Linked DNA regions of Homo sapiens: all the other regions are reported to be linked to region 2. Evidence: microRNA targets listed by miRTarBase, many of them from high-throughput screens and not tested one by one. Region 2 holds a microRNA gene; each other region holds the end of a gene's coding sequence.

Region 1 (8,095 bases), not on the chromosome of region 2:
ACCCCCAACATCCCTAATCTCAGGCAACCACTAATCTGGTCTCCATTTCTACAATTTTTTCATTTCAAGGATGTTATATAAATGGAATCATACAATAGTAACTTTTTGGTCTGGGTTTTTTTTCACTCCATATAATTCCCTTGAGATCCTTCCAAGTTATTGGGTGTGTTAATAACTTGCTCCTTTTTATTGTTAAGCAGTATTTCATGGATCACAATTTGCTTAACCATTCACGCACTGAAGGACATTTGTTTTTTTCCTAGGTCTTGCTCATTACACATAAAGCTGCTATGAACATTTGAGTATGGGTTTTTGTGTGAACATAAGTTCATTTCCCAGGATAAATGCCCAAGAGTGAAATTACTGGATCATATGGTAATTTCATGTTTTCTTTTATAAGTAAACTGGGAGGTATTTTTCTGAATGGCTGTGAAATTATACATTACTGCCAGTAATATACGGGAGATAAAGTTTTTCAGCATAGTTGTCAGAATTTGATGTTATCACTATCTTTTACCATTCTAATAGGAGTTAGTGATATCATGATTTTAATTTGCCTTTGTAACCATTCTAATAGGAGTTAGTGATATCATGATTTTAAGTTGCCTTTTTCCTAATGGTTAATGATGTTAGAACATCTTTTCACTCATTTATTTGCAGTTTAAGTGGACTCTTTGGTAAAATGTCTGTTGATGTCTTTCCTTCATTTTCCATTTGGTTTGTTTGTTTTCTTATTGCTGAGTTTTGAAAGTACTTTACATTCTGGACACAAATCCTATATCATTGATCTATTGGTATATCCTTCATGTCAATACCACACTGTCTTGATTACTGTTGCTTTAGAATAACTCCTTAAAAATCTAGTAATATTAGTCGTCTAACTTGGTTCTTCTTTTGTGAAGTTGTTTGGCTACTCTAGGTCCTTTGAAGTTCTACAAACATTTTAGAATCAGTTTGTCATTTTACACACACACACACACACACATAGGCTGCTGGGATTTTGATTGTGATTGTATTAAATCTATATTGAATCTATATTTTGGGAATATGACATGACATCTTCACAATATTGAGTCTTCTGACCCATGAACAAGGTATATCATCTATTTAGGTCTCTTTATCATATCAGTATTTTGTAGTTTTCAGTGTACAGTATTTTTCTCATTTTTTTGGTCAGACTTATCCCAGGTATTTATGCTATTGCAAAGGTAGTATTGTTTATGTGATTGCAAATGTTGATTTTTTGTTTCAATTATCAATTTTTCATTGCTACCATATACAACTGATTTTTGTACACTACTCTGTATCCTGCAACCTTGACAAACTCACTTATTTGTTCTAGTAGCTCATTTGTAGAGTCCGCTGAATTTTGCATAAATAATCATGTCATCTGTGAATACATTTTTCTTTCTTTCTTTCCAACCTGGATGTCCATTATTTCTGTTTGTTCTCTGATTGCACAGTCTAAAGCCTTCAGTACAATGTTGAACAGAGGCGGTAAAAGCAGGCATCCCTGATTTGTTCCTGACGTTGGGAAGGTGGGGAATATTGTCTTTCACAATTAAGTGTGATGTTAGCTGTAGGGTTTTTGTAGATGCCCTTGATCAGATTGAAGAAGTGTTGTTTATTCCTAACCTTCTTGATTATCAGTAATGAATGCTGGATTTTGTCAAATGCCTTTCTGTATTGATTGATTATATGATTATTCTTTTTTAGCTTGTTTATACAATGAATTATATTGATTGATTTTTCAAATGTTAAGTCAACCCTACACTCCTTGGATATTCCCTCTTGATCATGTTTTATTACCTGTTTCTTATCTTGTAGGACTCAATTTGATAAACTGGCTTAGAATTTTACCCTATGTTCATGAGAAATGTTGATCTGTAGTTTTCTTTCCTGGTAGCATGTTTGTTTGGCCAGGGTCCTAGGATAATTTTGGCACTAGGATAATTCTGGCCTCAGATAATGAGGTGGAAAATATTTCTTCCTCTCTCTCTCCTTCTCTCCCTTTCTTTGAGTCAGGGCCTTGATTTGTCAGCCAGGCTGGAGTGCAGTGGTGTGATCATTGCTCACCGCAGCCTTCAATTCCTAGGCTCAAGCAATCATCCTGCCTCAGCCTCTCAAGTAGCTAGGACTACAGGCATGTGCTACCATGCCTGGCTAATTTTTTTTTTTTTTTTTTTGGAATCTCGCTATGTTGTCCAGTCTGTCCTTGAACTCCTGGCTTCAAGTGATCCTCCCACCTCAACTTCCCAACATGCTGGGAATACAGGTGCGAGCCACCACGCCTAGCCCTAGATTTTCGTTACATGTTTTTAAACTGTAATTTCAACTTCTTTAACAGATATAGGGCTATTCAGATCATCTACTTCTTCTTGGGTGAGCTTTGGTAATTTGTGCCTTTCAAAGGATTTGTCAATTTCATCTATGTTGAATTTATTGCTATAAAGGTGTTCCTAATATTTCCTTACTATCCTTTTCTATCTGTAGGCTCTTCAGTGATGCCACCTCTCTCATTCCTAGTATTGGTAACTTGTGTCTTGTTTCTTTTTTCCCTGATATATGTACCTGGCTGGAGATTTCTCAATTTAAAAAAATTTCCCCCCCAAACTCCCCAAATTTTGATTCATTCATTTTTCTCTATTTTAAAAATTTCATTAAGTCCCACTTTGACCTTTATTATTCCTTTTCTTCTGCTTACTTTGAGTTTTTCTCTTTTCTAGTTTCTGCTATTGATTTCTAATTTAATTCCGTTGTGGCCAGACAACATACTTTATGTGACAAATGTTTTGAATTTGAGACTTTTTAAATGGTCTATAATGTAGTCCATCTCTATAAATGTTCCATGTGTACTTGCGAAAAACTCTTAACCCACTTTACTTTTACATATATTATAAATCCCGTACTATGATTTTTGTTTGAACAGCTAAAAATTTTTCTCAAGTTATTTCTCAAGAAACAAAATTGAGTTGTTTCTCCATTTTCTCAAGAAAAATTTTCTGCTATTGTAAGATGCAATGTCCTGTAAATGTCAATCGGGTCAAGTTGATTGATAAAATTGCTGAAGTCTACTTTATTATTCTTATTGATTTTCTGCCTACTTGTTCTGTCAATTATTGAGGGTGGGGTATTAACGTCTGATAATAGTGGGTTGATCTATGTCTCCTTGAAGTTCTAGTTGTTCTTGCTTTATGTGTTTTGAAGCTTTGTTATGAGGTGTGTGTTGTCAGTATGAAATAACTTTCTTTAATCCTGGGTGATACGGTTTGGGTCTGTGTCCCTGCCCAAATCTCATGTCAAATTGTAATCCCCAGTGTTGGAGTTGGGGCCTGGTGGGAGGTGATTGGCTCATGGGGGTGGATTCCCCCATTTAGTGCTCTTCTAGTGATAGAATTCTCACAAGATCTGGTTGTTTAAAAGTGTGTGGTACCTCCCACACCCCTCCCTCCTGCTCTGGCCATGCTTCTCTTTCACCTTCCGCCATGATTGAGTTTTCCTGAGGCCTCCCCAGAAGCCAGGCAGATGCCCACTGTGCTTCCTGCACAGCCTGCAGAAACGTGAGCCAATTAGGCCAGGTGTGGTGGCCCATGCCTGTAATCCCAGCACTTTGGGAGGCTGAGGTGGAGAGATCACGAGGTCAGGAGTTCGAGACCAGCCTGGCCAATAAGGTGAAACCCTGTTTCTACTAAAAAAAGAAAAACAAACAAAAACAAAAAAACGAAACAAAAAAAAACTAGCCAGGCATGGTGGCGCATGCCTGTAATCCCAGCTACTCAAGAGGCTGAGGCAGGAGAATCATTTGAACCCAGGAGGTGGAGGTTGCAGTGAGCCGAGATTGCGCCACTGCAGTCCATCCTGGGCAACAGAGGGAGGCTCTGTCTCAAAAAAAAAAAAAAAAAAAAGAAGAAGAAGAAATGTGAGCCAATTAAACCTCTTTTCTTTATAAGCTACCCAGTCTCAGATATTTCTTTATGGCAGTGCGAGAATTGACTAATATGCTGGGAATTACTTTTTGCTCTATTTTGATTAATATAGCCACTTCAATTTTCATGTAACTAGTGTTAGCATATCTTTTTTCCATCCTTTAAGTATTTGTATCTTTCTATTTAAAGTACATTTCTTGTAGGCAGAATATAATTAGGTCATGTTTTTTTCAATCCAGTCTGAAAATCTATGCCTTTTAATTGGTGGTGTTCACACTATTCACATTTAATGTGATTATTGATATGCTTAGGTTGAGTCTCTCATCTTGCTACTTGTCTTCGATTCATCCTAACTGTTCTTTATTCCCTTTTACCTCTTTTTCTGTCTTCTTTTTGATGAATCAAGTTTTTAAAATAATTCCATTTTATCTTTTGATAGTTTAATAGGTATGATTTTTTGGTATGTCATTTTAGCAGCTGCTTTAGGGTTTACAGCACATATCTGTAACTTATCACACTCTATCTTCAAATGGTAGCACGTCACCTTGTGTATGAGAACTTTACAATAGCATGATTCTCCTCTCCTAATCTTCAAGCTATTGTGGTCATCCATTTTACTCTTACATATATTATAAATCCTACACTATGACTTTTATTTAAATAACTGTCTTTTAAAGAGGTTTAAATAATAAATGCTACATTTACCCATGTTGTTACTATTTCCAGTGCTTATTTCCTTCAGAAGGCAGGCATTTTCCTTCTGCCCAAAGGACATCCTTTAACTTTTCTTGCAGTGCAGACCTGTGGGTGACAGTCTTTCAGCTTTTGCAAATTTGAAAAGATCTTAATTTCTTCATATCCATTATTCTATTTTCAGTGGCGTCTAGTCTGCTGTTAAACCAACCAGTGGAATTTGCAATTTCAATTATATTTTTCATTCCTAGATTTGTTTGGCACTTTTTACAATCTGCTTCGTTGTTCTTATACTCATGCCATTTAACCCTCCTTATTTCTGTAAGCATAAAGCATACTTTATGGATGTGCTTGCTAACTTTAACATCTTAAGTCTTTCTGAGACTTAACGGCCTGCTTCTGCCCCTTGTTTCTGCTGGTTCTTGTCTATTTTACACTTGTGATTTTTTTCTATGAACTTACATTCCTTGAAACTCTCCGAGTTCCTCCAAAGACAATCTGTTTTGCTTCTGCCAGTTACCTGTAAGGCAGTAAAATCCTGTTATCACTTGAAATTTCCCTCTTGAGATTTTTTAAGACTATCCAGGTGGTGCAAACAAGCCACCCTAAAAACTGCTGTTATATATAAATCCTGTGGTTATATATAGGCTCTCAAGTAAGATGTTTTCCCCCAGGACAGAAATCTTCCTTGCTGTTCACAGGGGTTGGGGGGATGGGTGAAGCAGATGGATTTATTCCTAGTTTACCCCTACATTGCATCTATCCTTTTGGAGTCTCACTTTATGAGGTCTCCTGTTAGTTTTCCTCCCTTGGGCAGGCCCTGAGCTTTGTGTGCTGTTCTGCAGCCCCTTCCCACCCCAGGCTATGAGAAGAAAACTTCAATTTGGCATTTGGCAGATGCACTAAGGCGGAAAAGTGGCGTCAGTACTCCACTTACTTCTTTGGGTTTCTGCTTCCATTTACAAAAAAAAAAATTTTTTTTTCCCTTTAAGAACTCTTATTTTGCAGCTCTTGTTTTTTACATTAAAAAAATGGTTCTTCAGACAAAAAACCAAACACCGCATGTTTTCACTCATAGGTGGGAATTGAACAATGAGAACACATGGACACAGGAAGGGGAACATCACACACCGGGGCCTGTTGTGGGGTGGGGGGAGGGGGGAGGGAGAGCATTAGGAGATATACCTAATGTTAAATGATGAGTTAATGGATGCAGCACACCAACATGGCACATGTATACATATGTAACTAACCTGCACGTTGTGCACATGTACCCTAAAACTTAAAGTATAATAAAAAAAAAATGGTTCTTCATATGTATTCTAAAGTTTTAGTTGTTTTCAACTGGTCCTTATCAGCCTTACTGCTGGAAATAAAATTCTTTCAACCTGTTCTGTAACGATTTACAGTATCCATTGATCCCTCTCTGATCCAGAGGCATTAGCGTGAGAACACACTTAGGAACTAGGCTGGCCTGAGATCAAGTCTCAGGTCCACTGCCACTATAACTTCGGTAGTGTATTTACACACTGTGCCTCAGTTTCCTCAAAGGGTTGGTGTGAGATTCTAACATGGTAATATATAAACAGCACTTACAACAGGGACTGGCCCTGGTAAGGATGAGATTTCTTTTTATTATCTGAAAAAGTTGTAATGAACAAAATATATCTCAACCAATGGAGTGAGATGGGGACCAATATCCCCGGTCCCTGGACATCCTGGCCCAGTGTACCACATAGTAACCCACAACCCTGTGCTTATGTTGACAGAGAGAAATCAACTATGAGCTATTCACTGGACAGCAGGCCTTGCTGCCATCACAGATGGGTCTCAGGTGCAGGGCAGGATGCCAGCAAATGCTGATCTGAGAAATGTCACCATCACACAAGCCTGAGTGGACACACAGACCTTTTACCATTAAGAAATCTGAAAGCAAGCGTAAATGTAAGTAAACACGATTTTTAATTTTTATTTTTTATGGTGGACAGTGATCATTTGCCCCAACAGCCATCTGAAGCCAATAGTCCTGATTATTAAAAATCACAAAGTTATATAAATGTTCTCCTCCTTTTCGAAAACCATGTTCATTTTTTTCCCAAGAAACAGGGCTGTCTGCAAAGCCTTGAACGGACAGTGTAACCCATGGAGCTAACTTCGGTTCATCAAAGTAGTGACTGAAAAAAAGGTAGTTGTTAAACAGAGTTTTAAAAGAGAGTTAGGAATGTCTGCATTTTAAAAAATTTATTCAGGATAAGTAGTATTTCTGATATTCTAATAAAGCTTAGATCTTAGCTTTAATTTTTGAAAATCAAGAGGTGTGTGATAAGTTCCTGATGTCACACTGTGAACTCCATAAGGATTAACTAATATACAACACATGAAACAAACCTCAGCTGTTCCCACCCTCATTCTGGGAGGTCTTTAAGACAAAAAGAACCCAAAACAAAAAACCCCACAGGCGTTTAAGGATCCTTTCCCTCCTATTAAGAGTACTGTTCTCAGAGTCTCAGTTAACTGAAACGTTGCAGGATAATTCACCAGATTTTTCATATCCAGCCTTCCTATCGAAGAAAGTCAAAGTACTAAACCAATAAATGTGAAAAAGGATGTTGGGCTTAAAAAGGAAAACCTTCAAGACTTAAATCTGACATTTCAAAAGGGAAGACTGAGAAGATATGCTTACTAAATAGGATTATACTCAATGTACGGTCTTTGCAATAGGCGATTTGAGTTCCTTTCAATGTACATTTTATTTATATACCACCTCCCAAAATGAAAAAATCTATACTATTCGACATACTGTTCTATAGAGCACTGATGAGCGATATAAAAGGTAAAGAGTTCTCACCAGAGATGTTCCAATAGGAGACAGATCTTCTCTGGAAGTATGAAGCCAGTGATTGTACACAAATAAGCTTTTGCCACCACTGTGCTTGGCTCAGGACAGCAATAGGTTGATATGAAATTATTAGGCTCATTATTTCTGTCACCAAAAAAATAAAAGAGAGAGAGATAACACATGTATATCCATCACATGATCACTTCCAAAGTATTAAACTCCTATTAAAAACAAGCAGCAGGCCAGAGCCCTGGAAGACACAGGGAGTTCAGATACCCACAGGTCGACATTACTGAAGACGGCGCCGAGCCAGTCGAAGAGCTCCAGAGCCCGGCAGGACACCTCTGGCGTTCCCTCCAGCTCGCTGCTCTGCAGCACTGGGCACTGGAGATCTCTCAACGTGCTCAGTGCTACTTTTGGCTGATGCTCCTGAATTTGGTACTTGGAAAAATATGACATCATTGTCGATTCTTCTGAACCTTAAAAACACACCACACAAGGCCATTTGAATCCATCTGACCATCGTAAGCAAGTTTAGTGAATACCTGAACCCACCCATTCCCATCTGAGCGGTAAGATTGAGTAAGATGGAAGCTGTGCAGAGCTGCATTCAAATTAAAATCATTTAAAGCTGCTT
Region 2 (8,095 bases):
TGAGGCTGGTGCTATGGGTAAACGGGGGAACTGCTCTGTCTTCTGGCTCTGTCCTACGGCCTGGGGGCTGTCAGATCTGGCCACCCACACCAGCCCTTCTCCTGGAAGGAGATGGCCCTGTGCCCGTGCCCTGGTCCGTGGGTGTGGGGCTGCCGTGAGGAGGGTGATTTATGGCCACGTCTGCTGCATACCCTCTCTCTCACCACCACAAAGCACCCGCATCCTTTACAGAGCCGCCTGCCCAGGCCTGCAGACTGCTCCCCACCTCCCCCATTGTGGCTGTCTATGCCCCTGACCCCAGCTGCAGGCCTGGCCTGCCCCCCTCAACCCTGCCTGGAGACGGCAGGCAGGAGGAAGTGGGCTGCAGGGGAGGGGCCTTGCAGGGGGAGTTTGGACACCACACCTCACACCACGCTCTCCCGCTGCCAGTGGGAAGCCGAGTGGCTATTTAGTTTCCAGAAAAGTGCTCAGACCAGGTAGAAGCTTAAAACCTCCTGGCCTCCTTTATGGTGAGACATGGGGTCTTTAGCGGGGCGTACAGGGCTGGGAGAAGGGCCTGGCATCACTCAAGAAGCCTCTGCACTGGGCAGGTGCAGGGGGCGTCCCTCTGTCCCTCGCTGTCGCTGGCCGGAGGACACCAGAGTGGGTGTCGGCGTGTGTGGCGAGTGTGGCTGGGGCTCCGGCTTCTCCCCATGACTCTGCAGAGCCGGCCTTGGGATGTGGGGAAGGGGCCGTGAGCCCAGGAGGTGAACCTGGAGGAGAGCCCTGCCTCAGCTCCTGTGGGCCAGCCTGGGGGGTGTGCAGGCTCCTCAGGGGCTCCCCTGGGATTAGATGCAGCTGAGCCTGTTCTGAGCGGCATAGACTCCCCGGCCCTGTGTCCCTAACTGGCCAGAACCACAAGGGGATGCCTTCCTAAGTCCGGGAGGCACTGGGGACATTTATGAGGTGGCTTCTGAACAGGAGGACCTATGCTCTGGACAGGACTCACAAATACCAAAGCTCATTGTCCCCATCACACGGGCCTGTGCCTGCCACCAACGAGCGGGGTCCCCGGACCACTGTGGTCCACTGTCATTCCACGACCTGGTCCCCAGTCCTGTGGGGCCCCAGAGAGATGGGACGACCAGCCAGCGTCACACAGCCTGTGAGGACAGTCTGCCAGTTCAGGCCTCTGGTCTCTGCGTCCAGGCCCTGCAAGGACAGATCCCCGTCAGGCCCCGTCCCAGGCCCTCGTCTGTTACATAATTCGGGCGTGAAATCCCGGAAGGGGGAGCTCCTGAGCCCGTCCAGCACCCGGGATTGGGGTCTCCCCATCACACACCCTTGGTGGCAGGGCCTGGCTGGGGGCGGCAAGCAGGTTGACCTTGCCTCTGTCCAAGGCGACTGGCATTTGTCATGACTTGGGGTTGGCTTGAGAGTCTCCGGAAACCCAGGTGGCTCTGTCACCACCTGATCCTGGCCCCAATTCTAGGCAAAAGGGCAGAGCCGATGGGACTGTGGAGGGGGCCACCCACTCCTGGTGGCCTGGGTGGGCTCAGCCCACTGGAGGCTCAGAGCAGCGAAGGAGGCCGTACCATTCTGCCCGCCCCCCCCACCCCCGGCCCTGCAGCCTGGGAGATGCCCGGGTCTCCCCAGGGCACCCTAGGAGCCGGCTGGCATGGCATGGAGGCTGCTGCCCGGCTACTGAGGAGGCGCCTCTGTACTGGCTGGGCTAAAAATAGCGGGGGGATCTCGGGCAGGGACAGCCGGTGGGAGGCCTGTCAGGGAGGGGCCGGGAGGGGCAGGACAGCAGCCTGAGCCCGGGACCCGCCGTCAATGGCGTGGGTGCTCCCACCCTGTTCCCGGTGGCCGGGCCAGCCGCGGCCCAGCTGACAGGCTATTTTTTCCCCTGCTTGACTAAATATGGTCAGGGAGCGCAGCCCGAGGGGGCCACTTGGCCAGGGCCGCGTGTTTGGGATGCTTGGCCGGGTATATAAGAACTGCAAAGGTGAGGCCGGCTCCTGACCCGAGGGGGGCCCCCACGCCCGCTCTGGCCTCTCAGGTCAGGCCCTCCCCTCCCCTCCCCTCCCCTCCCCCGCCCCTGTGTCTCCGCGAGCCGGCTGTGTGCCTGCGAGAGCGTGCACACCCGCGGGACCTTCCCTTTTGTTCCACCCTGACCTCTACCTTCTCTACCTTGTGCTGACCCCGCTGGGGTGCAGGGGTTCCCTTCGGAGGAGGCCGGGGCTCAAGGTGTGCAGCTCGGCCGCCTCTCCCTAACTCTGCACCAGCGCCTTCTCTCTCTCTCTCTCTCTCTCTCTCTCTCTCTCTCTCTCTCAAGATCTCCCTCCTGCTAAGTCTGCGCTGCTGCAGGAGGGCTGGGGGAAGGGCAGGGGTGTGGAGAGGGGGTGCCTGGTGTCTTCTTTCTCTCTCTGCCCCCACCAAGTGCGGACGCATCGAGCTTCGGCCCCCACCCCTGCATTCGCGATTGGCTCCCGGAGGAGGTGGCTGGTGCTGCCGCCGCTGCAGCATCTCCTAGGGAGCCGCGACCCTGCGCCCGCCGCCGCTGCCGCTGTCACCAGCCCGGCCCCAGGGGTGCCCTGGGCTCCGCGGTGAGTCCTGCTCAGCCCATCACCACCGCTGGGCCGCCGGGACGGCCCCTGCAAACTTGCCGGGCACCGCGGTGGGGGGTGTGCCTGCCAGCGAGGTGGGTGCTGCGGGTGCCGGCGCCGTGCGGCTCCGGCGGGGGTGCCGTGGAGTTTTCTCTTGGCTCGCGGCATCATCCACATTTGGAAAACTGCAGAGCCAGCAGCCGGCAGGGCCTGGAGGGCGCGTCCAGCTGGGAGGCAGGAACTTTGACTTGCGGGCATTTTGCAAGAAAGCAGCGGCCCCCCACGCGGGCAGTGGATGGCATGGGGGCTTCGGGGCTGGGCTGGGGGCGCGATTCACCTGCCGCTCCGCAACAAAGCCCCGGCAGCCGGGCGTGGGGCTAAACTTACCTTGAACTTGCAGTATCCCCCACTGAGGTGCTGGTGGGGGGCAGGGATTCCCGAGCTGAGCGGCGGCGAGGCTGCCCCCGGCCGGGACTCGGCACTTCTGCAGCTCTCCCAGCCACGTCAGGGTCAGGAGGCGTTTACAGGGGCAGGGCGGCGAGGTGGGGGGCGGGGGGCACATGTGGGCGGAGACTAGGGGGGCTTCGGGGAGAGCAGCCCTGGTGGTCGGCGTCTGTGCAGGTCCCTGCTGGGGAGCTTGACTTCCCGCGTGGCCTCCCGCGGCGCTGATGCCGGGGGCCGGGCGGTATTCACCGCTGAAGAGCCCCGGAGGAGGCCCCGGGCACAGGAGCCAGCTCGGCTCACGGTGGGGTCTGCTTGGAGGCGGCTGGGTGCTCTTTTTCTATGCAGACGGGAAACTTTTTGAAAAGTGACTACAATTCATTTGTGAGTGGGCAGAAGTCCTGTGGACTCTGGCTGGGTCTGGGGTGACTCTCCTGCCCTTTGGGACTCCCAGCTTTCCCCTTGACCCCCAGACCCCGTCCAGATGAATGCCTCACAGGTCGTGGGGGCTTGAGCCAGGCTGCGGGAGTGTCCCAGGCTCTGAGAGCTCATGTGCCAGGGAGCTGGGGACGTTGAGGAGGCCTTTTCCCTGGACTCCGGGGACGGTTATTGCGGAGGTCTTGGGAGGGCACAGATGAGCGGCGGAACCCAGGTGCCCCCGAAGTTGAAGCTCAGGCTGCGGTGTCGGGTGCCCTTTTTGTATCCTTGGCTACGTGAAAATGATAAATCACAGCAGCTACGTGGAAATGGGACATCAGCTTCTGCTTCTGTCTGCCATTTGCTCCTTCCTTTGTAGAGGGGATGCCTCCAGAGCCTTAAGCACAACCCCCACCCCCCGCCCCCACCCACCCCCACGTGAAACTCCAACCCAGCCATGCCCAGCTGCAGACCCACTGCCACACAGCCACAGCATGCTCAGTGGCCTCTGCACACTGCAGGCTCTGCGGAGACATTGCCCTGCCCTGGGTGGTAAGAGAGAACCAACTCGCTCCGGGCTGTCCCCTCGCATGGACGGGCTGCCTGGAGGAGCAACAGAGTCATGTTGGACCTCTCTTCCTGATGAGGACAACGGGAGGTCCTTTCATGTCCCGGGGCTGCTGTCCCACCCCACGCCAGGGTCAGTGGCAGGACAGGGGCCAGGGCCCAGCTGGACCCCACCGCTTAGCAAGCCTCCTGTGTCTGTGCCCGGCCTGCACCCCCAACTGGCGCCTCCCTGGCCCCCGTCCCCCCCAGGCACCTGCAAAGCCTTCTTTCCACCTCTCACCACCGCACGTGCCAGGCTCGCCCTGGGCCACTGCGAGGCCTCGAAACCCTGCAGGCCTCCTCCTCCTCCTCCTCCTCCTCTCCCCGCTCCCAGCAGGTTCGGGGCGGCTTCCCTTCCTGCTGGTGAGGGCCTAACCTTGAGGTCCCATTGGTCTCCTTCTGGCTCTTTCTCCACATTTTTCAGAGTCTGGCTTCACGGCTGGTCATAGAAGTTGGCAGGGAAGGAGGCAGCCTCTGCTTCCCACTCAGAGACATTTTTAAACGCAATGAAAAACATATCGATACAATTAAGTATTCCAAAGTGCTTAGTTTGCCACTCGCTAAGTTTACTTAAACCCTCTTTAACAGGCTCATTAGGAGCTGGTGAGCACCGGGAAATTCATTAACAGGAAGGCGGCCCCCTGCATTTGACTGTAAATTGGTATTGATCAGGGGCTGGTGGAGGCTGGGCGGCTGGCCACAAAGAGCCAGGTGTGGGACCAGCCTCCCGGGGGTGCCACGGCAGTGGCGCTGGGCAGGTGACGGTGGCTGCTGACCCCCGGTGCCCATGTAAGCTGCTGGCTCTGCGCAGCTGCCGCTTCAGGTGGGCCGCACTGCGCGGCGGTTCAGGGTGGTGACGCTGCGAGGCGGGGACGGGGGAGAGGGTGAAGAAGAGCGAGAGAAGGAGGGAGAGAACCGGGGGAGCGACGCTCCCTCGCCCACTGGGTGTCTGCTGTGGCCAGGCTGAGGCACCTAGGGAGTTGCCCCCCTAGTGGACGGCCTCTCAGGAGATCCTGACCACCCTCTGGGAACCTGGACTCCTCCAAGCATCGTCTTTCTCGCCTGCATCTTCGGAGAGAGGTGCTGAGCCCTTCCTCATGGATACGGGGTCCCGGGAGGCAGCCTTCACCAGGGACCTGCCCAGGAAACCAGCAGATGCCCAGGTAAGCCCCCAGGACACCTCTCGGGTCTCTGGTCTGCAGTTCCTCGTCTGGCCTCAGGAGCAAGGAGTTGTCCAGCTCCCGGAGAAGGAGGAGGCTGGTCCTGCGAGTGGGGTGCTGGGCAGGGCGCCCCCCAAGGTTCCTCTCTCCACCCAGCCCTCTCTGGGCTTGGCTGGGATGAGGTGACCCAGGGGGACAGGAAAGTGTTGGCTTTGAAAGTTTGGGACATGGATGATGCCTCCCTGCTCTGGGGTGAGGGTGGAGGGGCAGCCTGTCTCTTCCATGGACGCAAAACCGAGCTACTGCTGGGGCCAGGGACAGGCGCTCGAGACTTTCTGGGGCTCACTGTCCACTTCTGCCTTTCTGGATCGTGTGAGTGTGTGAGACAGACAGAGAGAGATGGATTCAGGGATGGAGGGGCGCCGAGGTCAGAAGGGGGCAGGGAGTCCTGGGCCCCTGGGGGTGGCTGGACACCAGGCAGCAGTGGCAGGAAGGCTGTCCTGCTCACACAGAGAGGGCTCCGGCAGTAGACTCCAGGGAAGAAGTTACACTGCCTCTGAGCTGCCTTCTCTACATCGCAGTGGGGTCAGCTTCTACCGGGGCGGCGTCCCGGGGTCTTGGAACTGCATGCAGACTGCCTGCTTGGGAAACATACTTCTTTATATGCCCATATGGACCTGCTAAGCTATGGAATGTAAAGAAGTATGTATCTCAGGCCGGGACCTCTCTCGCCGCACTGAGGGGCACTCCACACCACGGGGGCCGCCGCGGCCGACAGCCAGCCAGGCGGCTGTGGTGGGGGTGAGGCTGGGGCGGCAGGCTGCCTGGGCGTTGGTGGACGGTCGTGTCCCCGCCAGCATTGTTCTGTCACTTTGCCTGTGTCAGCAGGTGGAAGTGCTCACCAGACATTAAATATTCAGCTTGCTGACTGCGGCAGAGGGGAGGCGGCCTCCGGCAGGCGCGGGGTCCAGCGCGGGGCTGGTGAGGGCTGGGGGGTCGGGGCCGTGGCTGGAAAGCACGGAGTGGTGGCGGCGGCTCTGGGGGCTCCACTGATGGCCATCCTGGAAGAGGCCATCAGCCGGCAGAAAGGGCCACGTGTGGCCAGGGCAGAAACTGCTCAGAGGCACAAGACAAGAGCGAGTTTGGAAAAGGGCAGGTGGCTGGATGCAGAAAGGAGGGAGAGGCTGGGCAGCACATGGTAGAGTCTGCGGAGGGAAGGCACCTCCTGCACCTGCATCCAGCCCTCCCGGCTGTAGGGCAAGGCAGAGGAACTCGGAGGCATGTAGCCTCCAAGGAAGGCGCAGCCCACACGAGATGCTGGGGACGCGGGCAGGGTCAGGGCCACCACTGCCCTTAGGCCCCACTCCTCTGCCGAGGGCACCTGGGACAGGGTCAGAGGAGCTGAGTCTGTGCAGCCCTGAACCCACAGCCCACCCCAGGGGCCTGGGAGCCGTTCGATTTTGCCAAATGTCTGGTTCATGCCGCCCCAACCTGTACCCCCACCAAAGCCCCGGTTCAGCTTTCTCTCTGTTCCGCCGAATCCAACCTGAGGCATGTTTTGCTGTGAATGCAGGTGAGGCTTTGGCAGAAAGCAGCGTGTGGCCCAGGGCCCCTTGCCCCACCTGTCGGGGGCCTGAGAGCCATCTGCTCTGCCGCCATCCCAGTCCTGACCCGAGAAAGGACTGGGAGGATGTCCTGGGGCCCAGGGGATGAGGGCAGGTCCGGATCCGTCCGTGAAACCCTTTTCCCCAGTGCTGGTCCTTCAAGGAGAGGATGGGCGGCGGGTTCTGGGGTCTTAGGCAGCGGCTGGGCTGCTGTGTGAGGGGCGTTTGCCCGGCTCGTTTCTGAGTCTCAGATTGGAGGCGTTTGCCACCTGGGATGAGGCCAGGTCCCTGCCTGGGCACCCCCACCCTGCCACAGGCCTCAGGATTAATTTCTGGGGTGTGTGTCCTCTCTGCCTTGGCACTGCTCCAGCCACAGCGGTGCCCCTGTGCCCTACCTCCCGCACCCTGGCCTTCGGCAGGAATGAGGCGGGAAGGGACAGGCAGGCAGCCCCCTCCTGCAGCGGCTGGAGGCCTTGGGTCTGGGGGCAGCCAGGTCACCTGAGCAGCTGGGGCCAGCATAGGGAGCGCTGGATAAAGGGATTGGGGGCCGTTCTGAGCTTTCAGGTGGCTCCCACCCCTCAGGGAGCCTCGAGGTGACTGGAGGGGAGGGCCTGGCAGTCAGGGCTCCTGGCCTTCAGGTCTTCCTTCTGGAAACTTCGTTCTCCCAGCCTCAGCCCCATCTGGCGTAGCAGCAAGGGGGCGGGTGTTGACCTCGGGCACAGCCTCCTCTCGGCCTCTGGACCCGGAGGGTCAGTGCCCAGCATCCGCTGACGTCATCTCTTCCCTGCCTGCTCCCAGCTCCGGCCACAGGGAGGGAAGTAGCCGGGCGTGTGGCCACCGAGGCTGCCGGTGGCCACAGACACACCGTTCTTTTCCCCTAGATGCGGCTGTTGTACATTAAAGCTTTATTGCAGGATGTGGTGTTTAAATAAAAGCATTAGTGTTTTGGAATTAGGTTTGACTGAGCAGTAAAACTGGAGAGTTCACAGGGAGAGAGCTGCGGCCTGCTTGGCGGTAAATCACCTCCAGTCTCTGATCTGCTGAATTAAAAATGAGCATTGCACGGACACCGCCCATGGCAGCCCGAGCCCCTCTCCCCTGCACGTGTGGCCTGATGGTGCTCCCTGGGGATCCTGCTGCTTTCCTGGAGACACTGGGACCCGGGGCTGGAGTCTCCCATGCGTGAATCTCTAAAGCTTGGCTCCCGGGCAGCAGCCAGGACGGGAACCCCAAACTGGCGTGGGGCATGGACACGCTGGGACTTTCCCCTGTGGGGGTC
Region 3 (8,095 bases), not on the chromosome of region 2:
ATGTGCATGGCTACAGTTTACAGTCTTGAGTGTTATGGGGACTTTCTGGAGACCTTTCAGTCAGTTTTGTGCCAACCTTTTAATAGGCTGGATCAAATCCACCAGATTCTTCCTCTATAAGACTGATAAAATCATTTCAAGTTTGCTATCATGATTTTGTGACAGCAGCTAATGAATACTTTGTAAATTATTTTGTAAAACCAGATGGTCTCACGTTTATACTGTTTATACTAAATAGACCGTAAACTCTAGATTCTAAAGTAACACACACACACCATACCCCTCTATATTGTTTTATAGTTTTATTTTTTTTAAATGACAGTTACAAGTGCTTTTCCCTTGATGGGCAATGACGTAACTATTTTCAGTTATTAGTAATGCCTTAAAAAGTAACAGCATTTTGTCTAAACTGAACTTATATAATTGCACAAAAGTCATGGAAAGCATTAAGAAATGCTGGTAAAGATTGAAGTTTTCTCAGATTCTTGCGCAATTCCAAGAAGCCTTGATTCCAGTGGGTCCTCTGATTCAAACAATAATGATGCTCAAACTCAGTGACACACAGGTAGAGAACAGCAGCACAACCAGGAGAACCCATGTGGTTTGTAACAGTGAAATTCTGCTCTACTGTTAAGGTTTAATGATGCATTCATTCATCTTTTCATTAGGAGCATAAAAAACACCTCAAATTATATTTTCTCAGGCTTAAAACTTGTTTTGAGCTATGGATTCTACTTCAGGAAACAAAAATTAAAAAAAAAAAAACACAATCACACCATAAAAACCTCTTCTAAGCAGGTTCCTTTATGTTGCTACTGTCTGTGGTGCCTGCCTAATTTTCTAATAGACACACAAACGAATTACATTCTCAGCTATCAGACACTAGTTGAGGGACAGCAGATAGGTTCTAACTCAAATTCTGTTTTATTGGCAGAAGTTATTGGAAACACTGTTACAAAGGACTCCGAGGTCACCGCTGGACTGGTGAACAGCTCACTGTGCTTTCTTCTCCATCTCTGACATGGGAACAGGAGGGGGAGAAGCAGCATTTGTGCTTCACATTTCTGATCTCTGTATTATTAACAAAGCTGAACAGGGTGTGGGTGTGGATATTTGGAAAGACATAACAAAGGTACATTTTTCTGTTTTAATAAGTTGCAATGTCTTTAGATGGAGGTTTAACATGTTTTATTTGTATCTTAATCTCAAGACAGTATTTCTACGGTGAAGGTTTTTCCCTTTCTCACCTTACAAAAACGGAGAAAAAAGCAAGGTTTTGAAGGAAGATGCACACACAGTACTTTAAGTTACTCTCAGAAGCATTTTCCTAACGTGGATACTATGATTATGAGAGGAGGAGAGTTCTCACTCCAGTTTTTCTCTTCTTTTTTATTGAGACAGGGTCTTTCTCTGTTGCCCAGGGTGAAGTGGCACAATCATGGCTCACTGCAGCCTTGACCTCCTAAGCTCAAGCGATCCTCCCACCTCAGCCTCCTGAGTAGCTGGGACTATAGGTGCAAACCACCACACCTGGCTAACTTTAAATTTTTTTGTTGAGACAAGGTCTCTCTATGTTGCCTAGGCTGGTCTCAAACTCCTGGGCTCAAGTGACCATCCCTCCTTGGTCTCCCAAAGTGCTGGGATTATAGCTGTGATCCACTGCACCCAACTTTACTATAGTATTTATACTGTTGTGTTTCAAATAAAGAACACAGTCTGTTTCCTAATTATGGTGACAAAATAGTAATTCCTGAAATAAATACATAAAAGTATGTGACACTGGATATCCAGATATGTTTCCTTCATTTAGGTGGTATTGTTAATGATCTAACCATGTATCTTCAATTCAGGGAGAAAAATTCCAGTAGTAACATTTGAGTAATTTTTTTTAAGTTAAGATTTTTAATAGGAATGCCTGGTATATATATTATTTATTATACTTAGAACTAAAGGCTCGGCTGGGCACGGTGGCTCACACCTGTAATCCCAGCACTTTGGGAGGCCAAAGTGGGCAGATCACGAGGTCAGGAGATCAAGACCATCCTGGCCAACATGGTGAAACCCTGTCTCTACTAAAAATACAAAAATTAGCTGGGCATGGTGGTGCGTGCCTGTAATCCCAGCTACTTGGGAGGCTGAGGCAGGAGAACTGCTTGAACCAGGGAGTTGGAGGTTGCAGTGAGCCAAGATGGCGCCACTACACTCCAGCCTGGCGACAAAGCAAGACTGTCTCTGGCTGGGGGCCGTGGCTCATGCCTGTAATCCCAGCAGTTTGGGAAGCTGAGGTGGGTGGATCACAAGGTCAGGAGATCAAGACCAGCCTGGCCTGGCCAAGATGGTGAAACCCCGTCTCTACTAAAAATACAAAAATTGGGTGTGGTGGCAGGTGCCTGTAATCCCAGTTACTAGGGAGGCTGAGGCAGGAGAATTGGTTGAAGCCGGTGGGTGGAGGTTGCAGTGAGCCAAGATCACACCACTGTACTCCAGCCTGGGTGACAGAGTGAGACTCTATCTCAAAAAAAAAAAAGAACTAAAGGCTCAACACAAATAAATGATAAATGTTCAATGTGATGGATATGCTAATTGTTCTGATCTGATCATTATATATGTATCAAAACATCATTATTTACCCTGTAAATACGTACAATTATATGTCAATTAAAAACTTTAAAAAGGCTGGGTGCAGTGGCTCACGCCTGTAATCCCAGCACTTTGGGAGGCTGAGGTGGGCAGATTATGAGGTCAGGAGATTGAGACCATCCTGGCTAACACAGTAAAACCCCATCTCTACTAAAAATACAATAAACTAGCCGGGCATGGTGGCACGCGCCTGTAGTCCCAGCTACTCAGGAGGCTGAGGCAGAAGAATTGCCTGAACCCGGGAGATGGAGGTTGCAGTGAGCCAAGATCGTGCCACTGCACTCCAGCCTGGGTGACAGAGCGAGACTCCATCTCAAAAAAAAAAAAAACAAAAAAACCCCACAAAAAACCTTTAAAAAAAAAAAAAGCTAATATAAAGCCTTTACCTTAAAACTCTGAATTTATCTTATTCACTTTTTACCCTTAGAAGTTTATGAACTTGCAAAGGCAGTTGAAAACTATGGTAAGTCTTCAAGTCCCAGCTTTATTAAATGTAAGAGACCAGCAAACTTTAACCTAAATTTTAAGAATTTTAAGAAATATTTGGAAAATACTATTAGAAAAATAAAATTATTTGATATCCAGTAACAGTTAATAGCATTCTCTGTATTAAAAAATTACTAAAGGGAAATGGGTATGTCTGCGGCATGGCTGAGAATGAGTAAGATCACACACAGCTTATCTGCTCAACAAATCCTGAATATATCAGACAGCCCATAACATTGCTATGAGAAGTCTGATTCAAATGCTTAGCTGCTATAGTTAGTTAATCTGGGACTCAAAGGACAATATACCTGGGTCAGGGACTGAAAATCACCAGAAGAATTCTACAACAGCCTTTCTGCCTACCAATAACACCTATAGAACTTGACTGGAATCTAACCAGAAGTGTGTTTCATGTCCAAGTATGCTGCTATACATACAAGCTACCTAGGCTTTTAGCTAGAAAAGTTTAGACCATAGAAAATGATACAGGAGGTGCGGTGGCTCACGTCTGTAATCGCAGCACTTAGGGAGGCCGAGGCGGGCAGATCATGAGGTCAGGAGTTCGAGACCAGCCTGGCCAACACAGTGAAACCTCGTCTCTATTTAAAATACAAAAAAATAGCCGGGTGTGGTGGCAGGCGCCTGTATTCCTAGCTATTCGGGAGGCTGAGGCAGGAGAATCGCTTGAACCTGGGAGATGGAGGTTGCAGGGAGCTGAGGTCTCGCTATTGCACACCAGCCCCGGTGACAGTGTGAGACTCCGTCTCAAAAAAAAAAAAAAAAAGAAAAGAAAAGAAAATGATACAAGAAGAAAAGGAAATTCCTTATTCCTGGATTACAAATGAACAAAGGAAACACAATCCAAGGAAAGGGCTGTTGGGGGCACAGAGCCTGGGAAGTGAGCAGCCAGAGCTGTGGAGTTATTTCCCTCCCCTTTTTTTAAAAAGCTCTGGATTGAGAAATTGGAGGGAGGTGGGAAGGTGGGTATGGGGGATGGAGACTCCAGCTGTGCAGCCTCCATTCTGAGAGCTGCTTAGATAAGGTGCGCAAAGCCAGGCATTCCTAGGCTAGCACTGTCAGGATATGATTTGTATCACTTTTGTTTTCACATTATCTGTCTCTTGAGGAAGTCACTGCCTGTCTGCTTTTCACTCTGTACCCTGGGTTTCCCTGATAAGATAGGCAAACTTCCAGCATTACAGAGATTGTTAATCCCCTAGCTTGTGCTTCCCTAATACAAATTGTTTTTTTAAGAAACCCTCAAATTTGTGTTCTAACAATTGGCATGTTTTATACATCTTGACCTCATATCCAGGTTTAAAGGAGGTGAACACACTGGTTCTTAAAGCTTCCCTCTATCACAGACGCTCCTAAATAAGCTATCTGTGGTAATCTAGCCCTGTTCATCTTGCAAACTGAGTTGCTGTATAATTGTATCCAATGTTTGTGTTTAAAAAAATATGACTCTTACACCGGGCGCAGTGGCTCATGCCTGTAATCCTAGCACTTTGGGAGGCTGAGGTGGGCGGATTGCCGGAGCTCAGGAGTTTGAGACCGGCCTGGGCAACAGGGTGAAACCCTGTCTCTACTAAAATACAAAAAATTAGCTGGGCATGGCAGCGTGCACCTGTAGTCCCAGTTACTTGGGAGGCTGAGGCAGGAGAATTGCCTGAACCCAGGTGGTGGAGGTTGTAGTGAGCTGAGATTACGCCACTGCACTCCATCCAGCCCAGGCGACAGAGCGAGACTCTGTCTCCAAAAAAAAAAAAAAAAAAGAAGTATGACTCTTTACCACTGCACTCCCAGTGCTAGTATCAAAGAAAGATAAGAATCATAGGATATTTACGGGTACTTGGTAGATTCCATATTTTGTTTCTATTAGCACTAGAGGAAATCACAGAATGATAACAGGGGTACTTCTCTGAAAACTGGGCGCTACTACTGTGACTCTGACAGGGTACGTAAGTAGAGGATCTGCTCCTGCGCAGCACAACAGCTAAAAGGGTAACCTGTGAGGGTCAGTGCATTAAGAATCTATAGAGGGAGCAGGGATATCTGCGAAAGAAATCTTTCTTTTTTTTTTCTTTTTTTTTTTTTTTTTTGAGACGGAGTCTCGCTCTGTCACCCAGGCTGGAGTGCAGTGGCGCGATCTTGGCTCACTGCAAGCTCTGCCTTCTGGGTTCACGCCATTCTCCTGCCTCAGCCTCCTGAGTAGCTGGGACTACAGGCATCCGCCACCACGCCCAGCTAATTTTTTTTGTATTTTTAGTAAAGACGGGGTTTCACCGTGTTAGCCAGGAGGTCTCAATCTCCTGACCTCGTGATCCGCCCACCTCGGCCTCCCAAAGTGCTGGGATTACAGGCTTGAGCCACCACGCCCGGCCAGAAATCATTTTTTTCTTTTCTTTTTATTAATTTTTGAAGTCATCATTAAGAAATCAACTTTAAATTGAAGAGAAAAGATGGCAGGATGTCAGGATTTTATTTATTTATTTGTTTTTTTGAGGCAGAGTCTTGCTCAGTCACCCAGGCTGGAGTGCAGTCGCATGAGCTCAGCTCACTGCAACCTCCACCTCCCAGGTTCAAGCAATTCTCATGCCTCAGCCTCCCAAGTAGCCAGGATTACAGGCATGTATCATCACACCCAGCTCATTTTTGTATTTTTAGTAGAGACAGTGTTTCACCACGTTGGCCAGGCTGGTCTTGACCTCCTGGTCTCAAGAGATCCACCTGCCTGGACCTCCCAAAGTGCTGGGATTACAGGCGGAACCGCTGTGCCCAGCCCTGATGTCTGGATCTTTAGTATATACATATATAATTTTCTTTCTCTTCCATTTCCATCTTTATCAAGAATCTAAACACTTTCCAGGTCCCAGGCAACCAAATGGCAAGAAAAGCTCAGAAGTGTTTTGTTTGGTAGGTAGCTAGTGTTGCTGGAACCTGGACTGTGGCTGACTAGTAAGACTGCAGGACACCAGTGCCCCTGAGGGCTCATATGGCTCCAGTAGATATGCAGGATCTAGAATAGGTAGGGAGGAGTTACAGAAGGTATGTATTGGCCGCCCACAATCACCGAAAGATGAATTTTTGCATAGGCAGAGACCTTGGTAATTAGCTAAAAATACAGGCATCACACAAACTTCTTATGATATTGGGTTGATCTCAGCAAAAGTATAGAAAGGGAAGGACTTGAAAGAAGAAGTGAATTTTCTATATGTTTAAATGTGTTAACTGGAATGCATGGACATGTGTAACCAAGACCTTTATGTTTAAAAATTAAACTTGCTCTGATCATTAATTCTATAGAATTAATGTTACCAAAGCTGCAGTAACATACTATTCAAAAATTCATTTTCCCAGACTTCTAACTACTTAAAACAAAAAACCCCCCACACACAATTACATACATTCACACAGCTGCTATGCTCCCAAATGGAATGCATATATTAATGCACACACAGAGACACTCAGAAAGCACACGTGCAGGGCTGCCAGAAGACACCCATTTTGAACCTGAGGTGCATGTGGGCCGCAGTGAAGGTCAAGAAGCCTGGCTGCATATCTGTTCAATGTCATTCATCTCTTTGGGACAGTCTGCAGAAAGGATGAGAGGTGAGTCCTGAGTCACCACTACATCATCCTCAATTCGTACACCAAGACCCCGAAACTTCTCTGGGGCATCTTTGTCATCCTCTGGAATATAAATGCCTGTGAAGTAGAAAGAAGAACATGCTGTTCAGGAATGATAGTAACTGGGTGGTTTGGGGCAAGTAAGTTAACCTCTGGGTTAAAATTCCTTCCTCTGTAATACTGGATCTTTATGGTACCTACCTAGTAAAGCTGTGAGGATTAAATGAGATAATACATGTCAAAGTGGCTGGCATATAATGGTCAACACATGTTGGTATCATTACTAAAATTATTATTGTGGTTATCTTTATATTGGACTACAAGCTAAATACAACTACGGCAATGCTGATCATGATTCTGTCATATTCTAGTGGCTCAAGCAGGCCAATAAAGTTACTTAATTTAAAAGTACGTCAATATATGTGGGGGACAAGCAGATTATGTAAGTGCATTCTTCCCCTGCCTAAGAGTCCCTTGGAAAAAGAGCACCTTGCAAAAATAAAGACAAAATATATTTAAACTGTATTCAAAGAAACATTTAGAGATTATTAGCCTTGACAACTGGAAGCTGCAGAGACAGTCATTATAAGATTTAAATATATCTGATGTGTGTAATATAAAATACAAGAGAAACTGAAAGACTTTAATGTACATTTGGAAAAATGTAGGAACCCCAGGTACCCTTTCTAATCATGAAGTTAGACACATACCAGGGCTTTTTATATTAAACAAGTTGTAAACTTCCTCCACTATCCTCACAGATACTGCTCTGCGATTGAAAAAGAAAGATCAGCAAAGGAAAATGTAGCGCAGTCTAAGGAAGCGCCCATGTACCAAACAGATTGAACTAAATGATATATCTATGGCCACAGATAGCAATGTATGACTAGGTTCAAAGGGTGGCATAAAAGACATTTCACAGCCATAATTTATACAGAGATTAAAATACTTGAAATCTAAAATTTAGATCTGTTTTCAAAACAAAACCAGCATCAGTATTTAACCATCAACTCTGACAACATCAATCTTCACACACCATTGTGGTCACTGCTTCTCTTCAGAATCCTGCCCAACACCCAGGACCATTCAAGTTAGGTAACGTATCCGATTGTTAGCTTTCTCTGAAGCTTATGAGGAAGGCGATGGATACTAAGGAGTGGGATGGTGCTGGGTAGCTCAATGCAGCTTGCAGAGGTGTTGAAACTGAGAGCATAGTGTGTCTGCCTGTCTCTCTGCACACAAGCACCGGGGGCTTTGGAAGCTTGAGCAGCCCCCCACTACTAAATGGGAGACCAGTACAAACTGGCCCTGGGAAAGGCAGGATTAAAAAAGATTCATT

The links. Region 2 holds the annotated microRNA hsa-miR-1-3p (UGGAAUGUAAAGAAGUAUGUAU, at 5,901-5,922, shown strand). A microRNA usually pairs through its seed, bases 2 to 8, with sites in the 3' UTR of a target mRNA and lowers its output. Matches are read on the target gene's strand: a 7mer-m8 pairs with bases 2 to 8, a 7mer-A1 pairs with bases 2 to 7 and ends in A, and an 8mer does both.
Region 1: the mRNA of RPP40 is a reported target of hsa-miR-1-3p. The part of its 3' UTR that is shown has no 7-base or 8-base seed match.
Region 3: miRTarBase lists XPNPEP3 as a target of hsa-miR-1-3p. Seed matches in the 3' UTR shown: 7mer-A1 at 6,560-6,566 and 7mer-A1 at 6,359-6,365.

What each region holds. Positions count from the first base shown.
Region 1 is chr6:4,988,484-4,996,578 of GRCh38, forward strand. It overlaps RPP40 (ribonuclease P/MRP subunit p40), which reads right to left. Exons shown (of 8, transcript NM_006638.4): 6 at 7,739-7,937; 7 at 7,468-7,602; 8 at 6,234-6,793. The coding sequence ends at 6,595. Among named protein-coding and RNA genes, the nearest start is that of LYRM4-AS1, 11 kb to the right of the region's middle.
Region 2 is chr20:62,548,451-62,556,545 of GRCh38, forward strand. It overlaps MIR1-1 (microRNA 1-1), which reads left to right and starts at 5,856; the gene lies at 5,856-5,926. It overlaps CRMA (cardiomyocyte maturation associated lncRNA), which reads right to left and starts at 3,111. Exons shown (of 7, transcript NR_033263.1): 1 at 2,976-3,111; 2 at 1-11. It overlaps MIR1-1HG (MIR1-1 host gene), which reads left to right and starts at 2,003. Exons shown (of 4, transcript NR_171007.1): 1 at 2,003-2,588; 2 at 5,015-5,215. RefSeq lists an enhancer at 2,090-2,965.
Region 3 is chr22:40,925,008-40,933,102 of GRCh38, reverse strand. XPNPEP3 (X-prolyl aminopeptidase 3) reads right to left here. Exons shown (of 10, transcript NM_022098.4): 10 at 288-6,834. The coding sequence ends at 6,668. Among named protein-coding and RNA genes, the nearest start is that of RBX1, 22 kb to the left of the region's middle.